Linked DNA regions of Homo sapiens: region 1 is linked to region 2. A link means that fine-mapping ties the variant in region 2 to the expression of a gene that starts in the linked region. Tissue or cell type: whole blood. Region 2 holds a variant in brackets; the other region holds the start of a gene. All regions are shown on one strand. Distances are between the middles of the regions.

Region 1 (8,184 bases), 30 kb before region 2:
GATGACTGCCCACTGACTAAGTCCTTGACAAGTGCCCTTCCTTTCTATCTTAGGCCTGCCTCCTCAGATCCACTGTCTCCTATTAGACCTCACTTCACCCCAGGCTCAAGCCACATCAAGAAGCTGTCTGTTGTTCCCCAGGAACATGCCATTCACTCTGCTCTTCCTGTGACTATACCTAGAACACCTCCATCTCTGTTGTTCACCATAAGAATTAACACTTCTTAGGGCCCACCTTAGGCCAGGTGCGGTGGCTCACACCTGTAATCCCAGCATTTGAGAGGCCTGGCCAACATGGTGGACGGATTGCTTGAGCTCAGGAGCTCAACATCAGCCTGGGCAACATGGTGAAACCCCATCTCTACTAAAAATAGAAAAAAATAGCTAGGCGTGGTGGCACATGCCTGTGCCCCAGCTCCTCAGGGGGCTGAGGCGAAAGGATCTCTTGAGCCTGGGAAGTTGAGGCAGCAGTGAACTCTGATCATGCCACTGTACTTTCAGCCTCGATGACAGAGTGAAACCCTGTCTCAAAAAAAAAGCCCCAACTTAGATTTAGCCTGAAAGTTCCTTTCAGTAACGCCCTTTCTTCTGCTATCCACACTCCATGTATGGCAGAATTAACCATTCTTCTTTCTAGGCTCTCATAACATTAGTATGGATAGAGGGAAGCCAGAAGAAAATGATTTAAAAAAAGAAAAAAAAAAACAGTCTTATAACATTCTGGACATCCTTTTCTTAAGGGATATCCAAATTATTGGAACCTTTTTTTTCCCATATTTTTTCACTCCCAAAGGGCAGACAAGAGAAAGCCATTTCCCTGATTTTTTTATACTACCCTAACACATCCCATGCTTAGCCTGCTCTAGAGAAGGGACTCATTAAACCTCTAGTTAATAGAACTGAATTGGGCAAGTCACAACTTCTGAGACCGTTTCTTCATTTGCAACATGCTGAGATTCTCAAGATTCTGTATGAGGTTGTTGCGGGGATTAAATGGATAAATAAGGGGTAATGTGTACTAGAAGCCAGAGAGCACTGTATGGGTACATGGCAATATTGTTCCTTTAGCAGAGAAGCCACTTTATCTTCTTTTGTAACACACAGAACGAAGGACTACATGTTTAAAAGGCAGTTGGAGGACTAACAAGCTTCCACTGCACTGTGAGCCAAGGATTTGGCAAAAAGCACAAAATAAAACACATGGATATGTTGTCTACACTCCAAGCCAGTCATATTCATTTCATACTATATCCTATTGACGTCTAGAATCCAGTTGGACTTTCTAGGGATTATTATCTTTGAATCTGTGTCATTAGCTATAAATCTTAACACCATATAAAAGGCTATGCCTAGAAGGAATAGGCCCTATTAATCAGAATTCCTCCCTTGCATAAACATTGGCGCTAGAGTCCATAAGAAATTAAAGTCAAAAGAGGGAATATGGAGCGGGGCCGGGGCTGGGCGTGGTGGCTCACGCCTGTTATCCCAGCACTTTGGGAGGCCAAGGTAAGCAGATCACCTGAGGTCAGGAGATCGAAGCCAGACTGCCCAACATGGCAAAAACCTGTCTCTACTAAAAATACAAAAATTCGGCCGGGCACGGTGACTCACGCCTGTAATCCCAGCACTTCGGGAGGCGGAGGCGGGCAGATCATGAGGTCAGGAGATGGAGACCATCCTGGCTAACACGGTGAAACCCCGTCTCTACTAAAACAATACAAAAAAAAAAATTAGCTGGGCGTAGTGGCGGGTACCTGTAGTCCCAGCTACTTGGGAGGCTGAGGCAGGAGAATGGCGTGAACTCAGGAGGCGGAGCTTGCAGTGAGCCGAGATCGCGCCACTGCACTCCAGCCTGGGCGAGAGTGCGAGACTCCATCTCAAAAAAAAAAAAAAAAAAAAAATTACCCGGACGTGGTGGTAGGCGCCTGTAATCCCAGCTACTCGGGAGGCTGAGGCAGGAGAATCAATTGAACCCGGGAGGCAGAGGTTGCAGTGAGCCAAGATCACAACATTGCACTCCAGCCTGGGCAACAAGAGCGAAACCCTGTCTCGAAAGGAAAAAAAAAAAAAAAAAAAAAAGGAAGGGGGGTCGGGAATCAAAACGTCCTAATTCTAAAATGTGAATAAAACCTCGAGAAAATAGTTACTGTCTTAACACAGACCTATTGCAGTAACATTTGAATCTCAGTTATTCAGTGCACTCCTTTGTTTCAGTTGCAGAAACCAAATAAAGATTAATCAGACTACATGGTAAGAAAAGTAATTCTCAGAAGATCAACTACTTTTAGGTGAATTACCTCCCAAGAAGATGTTCTTTTTGACTGGATTTTTTTTCCTGGTATCAGGCATTCTATAAGAAGTATTCTATTGGCTGGAGTTCTATACACCATCTGTCCTATATGCAGATTTTTACATTTTATATACTATAAAATAAAATAATTCAAAAGGCTTTTAAAAAACAAACAAACAAAAAAACAGAGGTCCTAAGGATTTAAAAATGTCTTACCTCTTTGGGGAAAAACGGTCCAAGTATAGAATAGCACATCATGGAACCTAAGTTCACCGAAGCTGCCGATATCAGTACAAAAACCTGTTCTCTCGAAAGCCACCCGGGGGTCTCTCCTGCACTTCCTGCAGGATCATCACCTTGAATGCAAACATGCAGCAATTAGGCATATAATTGAGACTACTGATTAAAGTACACAAATGTGATTTCTGTGCACATATGTTGCACTCTGAAGATATCATTTGCTAAGCTTAGGGCTATTTTGAATATAGCACATTTGATCAAATGGAACACAATCCTTGTACATTACTGCCGTTTTGAAAACGTACTGCTTTCGGCTGGGCACGGTGGCTCACGCCTGTAATCCCAGAACTTTGGGAGGCCGAGGCAGGCGGATCACGAGGTCAGGAGATCGAGACCATCCTGGCTAACACGGTGAAACCCCGTCTCTACTAAAAATACAAAAAATTAGCCGGGCGTGGTGGCGGGCCCCTGTATCCCAGCTACTCGGGAGGCTGAGGCAGGAGAATGGCGTGAACCCGGGAGGCGGAGCTTGCAGTGAGCCAAGATCGCACCACTGCACTCCAGCCTGGGCTACAGAGAGAGACTCCGTCTCAAAAAAGCAAAACAAAACAAACAAACAAAAACAAAAACAAAAACAAAAAACAAAGATTTCTAAGGCAGTATTGAAGTCAAATGAAGTGTAAGTAGGAGAAAACAAGCTAAATCATTCAGCTGGTGAATTAATATTTACAGCGGTATGCTTCTGGATAGACAAGTCCCACAAATTCATAAATAAATACTTTTTTTTTACCCTAATTACTGGTCTTTTACATCAGTTAATTTAACACTTATTTCCAGGGCTAAATTGTCATTTAAAAACACGAAATCAATTACTGAGTTCCAAATATCCAAGCAAATCCATCAGCCATTTATAAATTAAATTGTTTTTAGGAAAAACTTAAGAGAAATACATTTGCTTTGCTCTATTTGTCAGAGGTTGCCATTGCAGTCCAGAAGGAAAAAAAAAATCAGTGCAACATGAGGAAGTCTTACGAATCTTTGTAAAATGTTTGTAGTAGATGAGAAAGGGAAATGAAAGTTAAAAAGAAAGGCAACAACAATGGGTACTTGAAAGGTAACGTTTTACATTTGCCTAATGGCATACTTATTTGAATGCATTAAACACACAGTACTTAAAAAGCAGAGGTATAGGTTAGAAAGTCATTAGAAACCGTGACACATATCCAATCCTGGAACTTTACCCCGTCCAGAGAGAAAAGAAACGCTGGCCCGAACCCCACGATCAGGCCCCAGCCTTTTCCAATCTCTCGGAAACAGATCAAGCTATAAGCAATTCAATCGTTGCTAAAGAGACACGCCGGAAGCCGCCGCTGGTCTCCGGGCTCCCGGCCACGCAATTCATGGTCACCTCCTGGTGCGCGTGGTCCCTCCAGGTCACCCAGCGCCTCCATCCCCGGTGCGTGGACTCCGGCGCCCCAGCTCCCGGCTTCAAGCCACGTCCTTGGACTCGACCTCCAAGGAGCCACTGGCACTCTGGCGGGCGGCCGCTGCTCAGCTGGAACCTGGCATCCCCGACTCCCTGCAGGCAGCGATCCGCCCGGCCCGGAGCTCCCCAAAGCCTTCCAGGACTCTGGGTCCCCGGGAGGAGGCCGGGGGCGGGGCAGGGGTGGAGCAAGGCTCCTTTTTTTTTTGTTTTGCGCCCCCCCCCCGCCTCATTATCTTAATCCACCACCTCAGCTGCTATATCATGGTGTCCTTTTTCATTCTGTGACAGAGAGTGAAAAAAGATGAGTCTATATTCCATACAGCTGTACCCCCCTCAATCTTAAAATAAGTTCAATTTATTCCTACGAAACGAAAGAAAGGAAGCTTATGTAGACACAGAAAAGGCAGGGAGTACCTCAACTGAAAGACACAAAAGTGAATTAGAAAATTAGGTTATACAGGAACTTTGAAAGAGTGAATTATTTTTCACAGTGGGTAAATGCGGTAGTGTTCGTAATTACTGAAGCCAGACACTATTGAACCGGAAATGAATTAACCTATGTGAAGCACCTGGAGTCGAAAAATATTTGCAAGAATACTAATGAATATCGAGGAAGCATGGCGAAGTGGCTAGGAGTGCGACCTCTGGAGGCAGGTGCCAGGGATTCAAGCCAGGGCACTTGCTGGCAGTGTGTAACTTTGGATGACAAGGTCAGTTTCTCTACCTGTACAACTGAGATTATAATGTTTATCTCGTAGGGCGGCTGTGAGCATTGGCGATAAAGTGTGTTAGTAGTTAGCACATGAACATGATGGCTGCTACCTTACTCTCACACTCACAGTTTTCTTGCATAAAAAATAGGTTTCACTTATTTTCACCGTATTTACTATTTGGGAAGTGTTAAAGCTCGAGGACTGGCTGGACACGGTGGCTCATGCCTGTAATCCCAGCAGTTTGGGAGGCCGAGGTGGGCAGCTCACCTGAGGTCAGGAGTTCTAGACCAGCCCGGCCAACATGGTGAAACCCTGTCTCTACTATAAAAATACAAAAAAATCAGCCAGGCGTGGTGGCAGGCACCTGTAATCCCAGCTACTAGGGAGGCTGAGGCAGGAGAATCGTTTGAACCTGGGAGGCGGAGGTTACAGTGAGCCAAGATCCAAAAGAATTGTGTGAGGGTAGCTTTATCGACTGAGAATCTGCCTCAGATCCACTGTACAAGGTCAGTTCCAGTACACAGTATGGCTGATAGTAAGTTTGTAATTACTGTGCCACCTCATTCCAGCCTGGGTGAAAAAGCGAAACTCTGTCTCAAATAAATAAATAAAGTTTAAGGACTGGGAAATTCTTGTTTTGAAGCCAAAGCAAAACAAAAGACTGAGTTACCACTTTGTGCCAGGCATTATGAATTTAAAGAGGAATGAGCCCCATCCAGACTCTGCCCTCAAGTAGCACACCTTCTAGCAGATGAAATTCACACTAATTAATAATCTACTATAATGCAATCGGTTGTATACAAACATATTGGAAGAACCATTTACTTTGGCAAATGGGTCCTGGATGACTTCCTGAGGAAGTGATGTTACCTTGGTTCTTGAAGGTTATGTAAAAACTCCCCAGTGAGGGCCGGGCGCGGTGGCTCACGCCTGTAATCCCAGCACTTTGGGAGGCCGAGGTGGGCGGGTCACGAGGTCAGAAGTTCGAGACCTGCCTGACCAACACGGTGAAACCCCGTCTCTACAAAAATACAAAAATTAGCTGGGCATGATGGCACCCAGCTACTCAGGAGACTGAGGCAGGAGAATCGCTTGAACCTGGGACTCGGAGGTTGCAGTGAGCAGAGATCATGCCATTGCACTCCAGCCTGGGCAACCGAGCGAGACTCCATCTCAAAAAAAAAAAAAAAAAAATTCCCCAGTGGGCAAGTTGTAAAGGAGAACCTAGAGAACCACTCTGAACAGAAAGTTCCACTCTAAGCCAGGTGCTGTGGCTCACGCCTGTAATCCTAGCACTTTGGGAGGCCGAGGCAGGCAAATCACCTGAGGTCGAGAGTTTGAGACCAGGCTGACCAACATGGAGAAACCCTGTCTCTACTAAAAATACAAAATTAGCTGGGCATGGTGGCGCATGCCTGTAGTCCCAGCTACTCGGGAAGCTGAGGCAGGAGAATCGCTTGAACCTAGGAGGCAGAGGTTGTGGTGAGCCAAGACAGCACCATTGTGCTCCAGCCTGGGCAACAAGAGTGAAACTCCATCTCAAAAAAAAAAAAAAAAAAAAAAAAAGAAAAGAAAAGAAAGTTCCAATCTAGCAAAGTTTCCCTAAAGTAGCCTTATGAAATCTTTATGATCTAACCCCTGACAGCTTCTCCAATCTCATTTAACTCTATGCTTTCTCTTCAATCTAACATCAATCTGTAGAGGGAAATTTTCTTGAATGATTTCTTTGATGATTACATTTCCTCTTTTATTTTCTTTCTGGACTGCACTTTATGTGAATGTTGGGTCACCCAAACTGGTCCTTTTACTTATTTCTCTTTTTCTTCTCTCTTTTATTTTATTTTATTTTTTTTAGACAGGGTCTCACTCTGTTTCCCAAGCTACCATGACATATAATGGCTCACTGCAACCTCAAATTCCTGAGCTCAACTGATCCTCCCACCTCAGCCTCCCGAGTAGGTGGGACTATAGGCCTGTGCCACCACACCTGGCTAGTTATTATTTTTTCTTTTTTTTTCCTCCATGTTATAGGAAGTATCCCTAACTGTATCTTGCCATCTGAATTTTTGCCAACTGAATCTTGCCAACTGTATCTTGCCAATTGAATGTTTCATTTCTGTTGCCATCTATTTCCTTGTATCTCCATTCTCATTCCTCTCCCCATTTGCAATAATTCTTGCATGTTTAATGCAAATCTTGTTCTTTATGTTCTCAAAAAAATCTATGTTCTTATGTGTCCATCTACTTTTAATTTACATAAAGTCTATTCATATCCCTATCCTCCGCTCCTCTTGTAATCTCTACCTCTCATTCTCCCTTCAGATAATCAGTTTTATAATCAAATATATTATTGTGTTAGTTTTCTGGGGCTGCTGTACAAATCAACACAAATTTGATAGCTTAAAACAAGGTCCTCAAAGCCAGAAGTTCAACATCAGTTTCACTGAGCCAAAATCAAGGTGTCAGCAGGATCATGTTCCCTCTAGAAGCTCTAGGGAAGAGTCTGTTTCTTGCCCCTTGAAGCTTCTAGTGACTATTGGCATTTTGTGCCACATCACTGTAGTCTCTGTTTCTGTGATCACTGTGCCTCTTCTTTTCTGTGTGTAATCTTCGTTTGCCAGTCTCTTGTAAGGATATTTTGAATGAATTTAGGGCCCACCTGGATAATCCAGGATGACCTCTTCATCTCAAGTTCTCCAATTTAGTCACATCTGCACAGACCCTTTTTTTCATATAAGGTAACATTTACAGGTTCCAGGGATTAGGATGTGGACGTATCTTTGGAATCCATTATCAGCCTACCACAATTATCTATTCATAGTTTGATATGCTCATTTAGACATTCATACACATATGGAATATTTGTTTCTTTACAAACTAAAATGGAGTAATATGGTCTTTGTTTAAATGCCACCTCCTCAGAGAAATTCATTCTTTTTTATTATTTATTTATTTAATAATAGAGATGAGGTTTCACCATGTTGCCCAGGCTGGTGTCAATCTCCTGGACTCAAGCAATCCATCTGCCCTGGTTCCCCAAAGTGCTGGGATTACTGCCGTAAGCCACCATACCTGGCCAAGAAATTCATTCATTTTTTTTTTTTTTTTTTTTTTTGAGATGGAGTTTCACTCTTGTTGCCCAGGCTGGAGCACAATAGTGCTATCTTGGCTCACCACAACCTCCACCTCCTAGGTTCAAGCGATTCTCTTGCCTCAGCTTCCTGAGTAGCTGGGACTACAGGCATGCGCCACCATGCCCAGTTAATTTTGTATTTTTAGTAGAGACAGGGTTTCTCCATGTTGGTCAGCCTGGTCTCAAACTCTCAACCTCAGGTGATCCTCCCGCCTCGGCCTCCCAAAGTGCTGGGATTACAGGCGTGATCCACCGCGCCCGGCTAAGAAGTTCATTCTTATGCCCTTATCCAAATACAGCCCTAGTCCTCCTTTGTCCTTTC
Region 2 (8,184 bases):
CCTTTATCTCCCGTGCCTAGGACAGTGCGTGGTGTAGTAGGAACTCAGATATTTCAATTGTTTGTTTGTGGGCTTTCTTTTCAGTCTTAAACTCCTCAGCCTTTTTTCACCCTCTATTTTTTAAGGTTCCTTTTCCTCTGGCAACGAAAGTAAGTCTCTAGGTTGGGCTGCTTTGAGTCGAGTGTGGAGCCAAGCTGTCTCAACTTCCTTTCTCTCCAGCTCCACTCTAGGGAGCAGGGCATAGAAACATATCCTATCACAATATGGAGTACATGGCTCTAAGAAGCTGAAAAAATACGTTTAAAGGCCATTGTGAGACCTGGGAACAGTAAAAAGCATGTGAATTCAGAGAAACTATTTTTACATTGCAATAAGTTCTTTTTTGAAGCTTATTTATCGAGACATATGCCAACAGCACGGAATTATATGAGTGATGTGAATTAAACCTTACACAAATGTAGTATTTGTCTTTTTATTTTTCCTTCTCTCAACTACCCCCAACTAAAATTTACAAATGGATATAAAAATCCTGTTTGTACTTGGTTGGCTCGTTAGAGAAATACCGAGTCAAAGGTCTGTGATATTTCACAGTGCTGCCCCCAGGTGAAAAGAAGCAAAATGCACATTAAAAAAAAATAAATATGAGATCCATAAGGGGAAAATAAAATATTAGCATATAAAATGCTACAAATTAAAAAGCCTGCCTTCTCCTGTAGATTTGAAGCTGGATAAACTTGATGGATTCTAGGAGTCAGCAGATGTTTTGCTAAATGGGTACATGTTGTGTCTTGCAGGGAGGTACTTAGCCCCACGAGGGTCGTAACGTGATGCAGCTATGCCACTCTTTCAGGAGGAAATACACATATAATTTAAGAAGAAATTAAAACCTTTTCTACATTTCCCCACAAGCTTCATTTTGAAATAAAATTATCCTTTTCAAAATATTATATTCCAAATTTCTATCATGTGAAGACTCTAGAAAAGTTTACTCTAAAATAATGAAAATGATAACATAATGTGAACGATGCTAAAGTGCAAAAGCAGAATTCAGAGTTGTATGTGAAGAGGAAATGATATACAATAAATCTGTTAGATTTTTTAGTAGCATCATCAAGGCATAAAAGGCGGACTTGTCATATTAACTTTGTTGTTGCCTAGTGTTGTCTCGTGAAGTGAGTCTCATTCAAAGTATTTTGGGTTGCACTGCTGCCTTCTGGAAATGCTCGGTATAGAATACAGGACAGATGAAGTTTAACAGTCACTTTGGTTTGACACTACTGTGTTGGGTTGCAGTAAAAATAAAACCGATAAGAAGTGAGCTGGTCTTCAAATAAACTTCTATATTGCAGTAAAACTGCGAAGGTGTTTCTCCTGTCATAGCAATGGGCAACAACACGACCTTTTGTGAGTCAGAAACCTGCCTGGCCAATGAATCCAATACATCCCAGTACGGGACACTTTTAAAGTCCGTGTTCAAAGTTTATTTGCAGCAAATGGAGGTAATGCTTTAAAAGCAGAAGTATTAGGCTGGGTGCAGTGGCTCATGCCTGTAATCCCAGCACTTTGGGAGGCTGAGGCGGTGGGCAGATCACCTGAGGTCAGGAGTTCAAGACCAGCCTGGCCAGCATGATTAAACCCTGTGTCTACTAAAAATACAAAAATTAGCCAGGCACGGTGGCACATGCCTGTATCCCAGCTATTCAGGAGGCTGAGGTGGGAGGATCACTTGAACCTGACAGGCAGAGGTTGCACTGCAGCCTGGGTGACAGAATGAGACTCCATCTCCAAAAAAAAAAAAAAAAAAAAGCTGTATTTCTTGCTGGTGTTGGGGAGGAGGCAGTGGGAAAAAGAGACAGAGAAAGTGAGGGAGGGATGGAGAGGGAGGGAGACAGAGGGAGAGAAAAATGTTCAGGTCACTATAAATTAGTACAGAGGATTCTTGTTATTTTTTTTGCCCCACGCTGGTGATTTTCTCAAGTTAAAAAATGAAAACAAAATGCCAGCATTCACTTTTTATTTTGGAAATTCAGCTTGATGCAATCGTTAGTTGAAAATAAATATAAATAGGCCGGGTGCGGTGGCTCATGCCTGTAATCCTAGCACTTTGGGAGGCTGAAGCGGATGGATCACGAGGTCAAGAGATCGAGACCATCTTGGCCAACATGGTGAAACCCCATCTTTAATAAAAAGACAAAAATTAGCTAGGCGTGGTGGCGGGTGCCTGTAGTCCCAGCTACTCAGGAGACTGAGGCAGGAGAATCACTTGAACCCGGGAGGCGGAGGTTGCAGTGAGCCGAGATTGTGCCACTGCACTCCAGCCTGGCCACAGAGCGAGACTCTGTTTCGAAAAAAAAAAAAAGAAAATGTAAATAAACTGAATATTATCTGACTGATTCCACTTTCACTGCATTGGATAGAACTGAGTAACTGTTTTCTCTGGAGATCACAGAAAGTCTCAATTGAAATAGCATTTTATTGAAGTGAAAAGAACTTACAATCATTGTCAGTTCACGGATTTGTACTTGTGCTGAAAATCTTTAAGGCAGCAAATAAAATGTTCCTCTACCTGTGCACTTTAACTCTATTCTCCTACTAAGACATTCTAATTTGAAAATTAGGGCCGGGCGCGGTGGCTCACGCCTGTAATCCCAGCACTTTGGGAGGCAGAGGCGGGCGGATCACGAGGTCAGGAGATCGAGACCATCCTGGTTAACACGATGAAACCCCGTCTCTACTAAAAATACAAAAAAATTAGCCGGGCATGATGGTGGGCGCCTCTAGTCCCAGCTATTCCGGAGGCTGAGGCAGGAGAATGGCGTGAACCCGGGAGGCGGAGCTTGCAGTGAGCCAAGATCGCGCCACGGCACTCCAGCCTGGGTGACAGAGCGAGACTCCGTCTCAAAAAAAAAAAAAAAAAAAGCAATATATTTAATAATATTTATATTGCCTTATCTAAATTGGAAGACAAACAAAAAATAATATATGTATATTATTTTATTTATTTGTTTTTTCTTTTGAGATGGAGTCTTGCTCTGTCACCCGGGCTGGAATTCAGTGGCATGATCTCAGCTCACTGCAGCCTCCACCTCCCAGGTTCAAGCGATTCTCCTGCCTCAGCCTCCCGAGTAGCTGGGATTACAGGCATAAGCCACCACACCCAGCTAATTTTTGCATTTTTAGTAGAGACGGGGTTTCACCATATTGGCTAGGCTGGTCTCAAACTCCTGACCTCAGGTGATGCACCCACTTTGGCCTCTCAAAGTGCTGAAATTATAGGTGTGAGCCACCGTGCCTGGCCCCAACATATAAATAATATGTAAATAATAACAAAACTCAGTAGAGTTGAGTGGAAGATCATGTAAGCCAGCTCCTTTTAAC[C/T]TTGTTCTGTGATTCCAGAATTCTATAGACTCTTTGATTTCTACTTCAGTGACTTGATAATAATAGTTAAATAATTGTGCAAATAAATAATGGGGATTTATTTTATAATAACATCTTGTTATCTTAGGGGATTCCCAAATTGCTTCATTTTTTATTTTAGTCTTTTGAAGAGAGTCTACCATGGTGGAAGGACTCTTACATAATACAAGGGTTTATTTAAGACTAACCATTTAATATAAAACAAGAAGGTATATTTATGTTTATGATGATCATTTCCCAAAGTTAGCTTATTGTTAAAAGATGCAAAATTCAGGGAATTAAAGCAAACAACCCAAACTATTATAGTATTCTTCTTAATGACATAAGTGATCTTCTTTAATACTGTCACCAAAGGTAAATAAATATTAATGACAATTGTGATTTTCCTGAGTGTCAGCAGCCACCTTGTCTCTATTATCATTATTGGTTTTGTTATTTTCTAGAAGTAATTATATGGCCAGACCAAAATGTGACCTTCCTACTTTCTTTCCTGTGTTTCTGGAGAACATGCTTTCTCTTGCCTCTAGAGAATTTAGGCCTGATGTGACAATATTTTTCCACTGCAGATTCTACTGGAATTAGAGTCTGAGGTTTTTCTGTTTTTTGTTTGTTTGTTTGTTTTTTTCTTGAGACGGAGTTTCACTCTGCCGCCCAGGCTGGAGTTCAGTGTTGCTATCACGGCTCACTGCAACCTCTGCCCCCCGAGTTCAAGCAATTCTCCTGCCTCAGCCTCCCAAGCAGCTGGGACTACAGGCGTGCACCACCATGCCCAGCTAATTTTTTTGTATTTTTAATAAAGACGGGGTTTCACCATGTTGATCAGGCTGGTCTCGAACTCCTGACCTCAGGTAATCTGCCTGCCTTGGCCTTCCAAAGTGCTGGGATTACAGGTGTGAGCCACTGCGCCTGGCCGAGTCTGAGTTTTTAAGATGGAAGAGATTTGAGAAATGGTCTAGTTTGATTCCTTCATTTTCCAAATGAGAAGATAGAACCCCAAGTTCCAGGACATGACCCAAGAAGCCTTTGAACATTGGGTAAACTGACTGATTATAGGATTTGCCATTTTGTCGAATATTAGAATTGTTTGTATTTAATATAAGTAGAAGGATTATTATTATTATTATTTTTAGACAGAGTCTTGCTCTGTCGCCAGGCTGGGGTGCAGTGGCGTGATCTTGGCTTGCTGCAACCTCCACCTCCCAGGTTCAAGTGATTCCCCTGCCTCAGCCTCCCAAGTAGCTGGGACTACGGGCACACACCACCACACCCAGCTAGGTTTTTGTATTTTAGTAGAGACAGGGTTTCACCATGTTAGCCAGGATGGTCTTGATCTCCTGACCTCGTGATCCACCCGCCTTGGCCTCCCAAAGTGCTGGGATTACAGGCGTGAGCCACCGTGCCCAGCCCTGAAGAATTATATTTTATAAATTGGTAGGTAGCTTCCACAAAAGGCATGTAGAGATTTGGAAGAAAACTGTTTATACAAAGCTAAAACTCAAATGTACAAACATAGTATTCCATAAGCCATTCATTTGCAATGCTCTGCACTTCTGAGGTTTGCTGTGCAAAAACTGTGCAATATTTTCCTGATCTCTACTTATTTCGTACTATCCAGACCAACAACAGTGGTTCAGCATGGTGAATTCTCCAGAAAGAGGGATCTACAACACTGAGTCTTGTCAAGCCTTCAGTAGGGGAGCAACACAGGTGAATTAATAAGGCCAAGGAGACACGTTTAAAGAAAAGGGAAGAGAAGGGGAGCTATTTGCCCAGAAAACAGTGATTTGAAGAAAACCAGTCTGGAAGTGTATGATGAGGGTACATTTTATAAAAGATTACAGCAGCTGCTTTGCCTTGCCATGAAATAAACAAATAAGAATTAATTTTTAGAAGCGGTTATAATAACTTTAAATGAGGAGTGTTGCTACCTATAATTGATTGTAAGGGGAATTGGGCTTTTAAATATAATACTGGGTTAAGTACACATTCTTCTGAGACCCTGTCAGCAGAATGCTGATGTTTGTAATTGGAAAAGAGAATGTCTCTTAAGGATCTCTTTAACTAGTCAGCCTAAAACACAGATTCTCATCCTCAACTAGAATGCTATTCCTATTCACAAAAACCTGGGGAACATGATCACATTAATGCCCAAGAGATTTATAGCAAGAATAAGAGCAAAAGAAAATCTATGTATTTTTGAAGACATGGACTTCCCTAGTGGATATGTTTTCAGATTCTAAGAGTTAGAGGTAAAAATAAATTTTTAAAGTTTATTTTTTTAAAGTTACTTTATTATTTGTATCTACTTTGGTAAAATTCCAAAATAAGACAGTGATTTCTACTGTTTTGGTTAACTTTTGCCTTCCTCATACTCTCTGTGAGTATTCTAAATTTGAGACTGTTGGTGATAAATCAATTTCCTGAGAACACTTTAGCTAATATTAAAACTTAATATATATGGTTATTATTTTTAAAGTTTACTTTTTTCATGTTTACATTGTAAAAAATAAATGACTGAAATTTAGGTAACATGAGGAGAGCAATATTCTGAAAAATGAGGTGAAGTACCAATTTAATGTTTAGATAAGGACCAAAATTTCTTTAGAATAACTTTTATTTAAAGACATATCAAATTTAAGACATTATTATGACATTGTCAATTTGAATAAGATTGGTTTTTAATCTATGGCTAGAGAAAATTTATAAAAGAGCCAACAGTCTCTAGTTTGTAGTTTTATCCAATTTTACTTTTCATTCCTTTCGAGGGTAATTTCATTACATTCTATCCAGCAAACAGGAGATGGCAGCATTACTTCAGCCGTTCAAAAAGACACTCAATCCCTTCTGAAAAGAGAAGGCTGGGAGCTGATGGAGAGTAGAGATTTAGCAGCAGGTGCTACAATGTACATAGAACAGAGGAATGTATGTTTCCTATGTAGGGTACATAGGAAACAAATGTGAAATAAAACTGTTTAATGCCTCTGAATGCTGCAGATTTTTACGCATATTTTCCAGTGTAACAGGCCCTTCCCCTGTAAAAGTGAAATGGGTCAGATGTTGAGATTTTTATGGGATTTAGAAAGCTGTGCATGCATAACAAAGAGCTTGGCTCTACAGCTGTAGGATTTTTAATCTCTGTTTTTTTATGGAGTAGTAATTTTCTAAGAACACTAGACACTCATTTTCTTTATTTCTTCTCAAATTTCTAAGCATACATTAATAATAATATGGAACTTGGGTCTCAGGTCAAAAAAATACATACATGATCCAAACTACTGATATCTGCTACAACTGTTAATGCAGGAGATAAAATATTAGATTGGTAAATCCATGGACCTCAAGGCCTCAGCTCGTTTTTCATGTCAATTGGATACCTCTCCTTGAGGAAGCAACTTCTAAGGAACACAGATCTGTAATATACAAACTGGGTTTATTTTGTTGAATTTTTTTATATATCTGTAAATAAATTTACTTATGTTTTGTTTGTGAAAAATTTGGAATAGTCTTTCTTAGCTTCTTTCAGGAAATCTAACCAGCCACTTGGAAAATCAAAAATTTTATTAACTTTAAGTAAAAGAAGAGAAATAAAGGCCTAAATAGAAGTTTCCTTGATGCTGATATTAGACCTTTAACCCTGGTTAAGGAAGAAAAGATTCAAAGAATTATTCAAAAATTCAAAGAAAAGATTTAAAAATTGTCTCCATTCTTTGAATGGAGACTTGCCTTCCAGCCTTTATCTTCATTTTAAATTCTATATTCTTAGGAGCCTTGTTTAGGAGATATTTCTCCAAACCCTATTTTTAAAATGTGGATTTTTGTTGTTCATTTTAACTAACATCTGAGCTTTAATTTCCTCATATCTGCACATAATCTGCTTCAGGCTATGATTGCTTTTTTTTTTCTCTTTTGAGAAAGCAACCTTTCCATGTTGGCATAAATTTGACTTGTATGTACTAAGCAGAACATTTTATTAATATGCTAACCATTTTTCCATTAAAATCCAAGGCTATCACATACATAAATATAGCTTTTATGGGTTCACCAGAGATTCAAACGTGAACCTGAAATTTAGTCTACCACTTGGCAGCTTATGTCAACTGGCAGGGCTACTATATCAGAAATAATGACTTGAGTGTGAGTTTGAATAAATGAAAACCATAGATGTTTAATCATAATGCAGTCAGAGGTTTATCCTGGGCTCCATAAATAGTGGGGAGGGCAAAACTGATCTTGAAACATTTTTCACTTTTCTTTTTCAATATGTTCTGCCTTCTCATTAAGTAATTGTGAACAAGGACACTGGTACTAATTTTTAACCCTCTTTGACATGCTAAGGGCTTTAAAATGTGATATTTGACAGAGTCTTGGTCTATTTGTAGGGCCAACCACTGAGCATCAGATTGGAGATTCTTATGGTGTCCATACTAAGGCCTTTGAAAAGTGATAACTCAGAGAGGTGAATGCAAGGGCTTTTAAGATGTCTGTGTCTGTACCTGTATCTGTATCTCTCTCTCTTTCTCTCTCTCATTTTGTGGTTGGTCAACATACACTGGCTTTATAGTCAGGGGAGCTTGGATGTGAATCCTGCTTTGGCAGTTACTGATTGTGAAACAACAGAGAAGTCATTTCACTTATATGAACCTCATGTTTTTTTCTCTAAAATAGTTATAATAATACCTGTCTCATAACGTTTTTGTGAGGATGAGATGATATGTATAAAGTGCTTTTGTCCAGTGTCTCAAACATAAATAATGGTGGTTGTTATTA

The links. PIP is the estimated chance that this variant, and not a neighbour inherited with it, causes the effect.
Region 1: SLC18B1 starts here. The variant in region 2 is fine-mapped to the expression of SLC18B1 in whole blood (TOPMed, PIP above 0.99).

Annotation. Positions count from the first base shown.
Region 1 is chr6:132,794,476-132,802,659 of GRCh38, forward strand. SLC18B1 (solute carrier family 18 member B1) reads right to left here and starts at 4,162. Exons shown (of 14, transcript NM_052831.3): 1 at 3,939-4,162; 2 at 2,507-2,646. The coding sequence starts at 3,981. RefSeq lists an enhancer at 2,448-2,948 and a silencer at 4,180-4,229.
Region 2 is chr6:132,824,200-132,832,383 of GRCh38, forward strand. No RefSeq gene overlaps it. Among named protein-coding and RNA genes, the nearest start is that of SNORA33, 11 kb to the left of the region's middle. The variant C/T (reference allele first, on the strand shown) is at 3,379.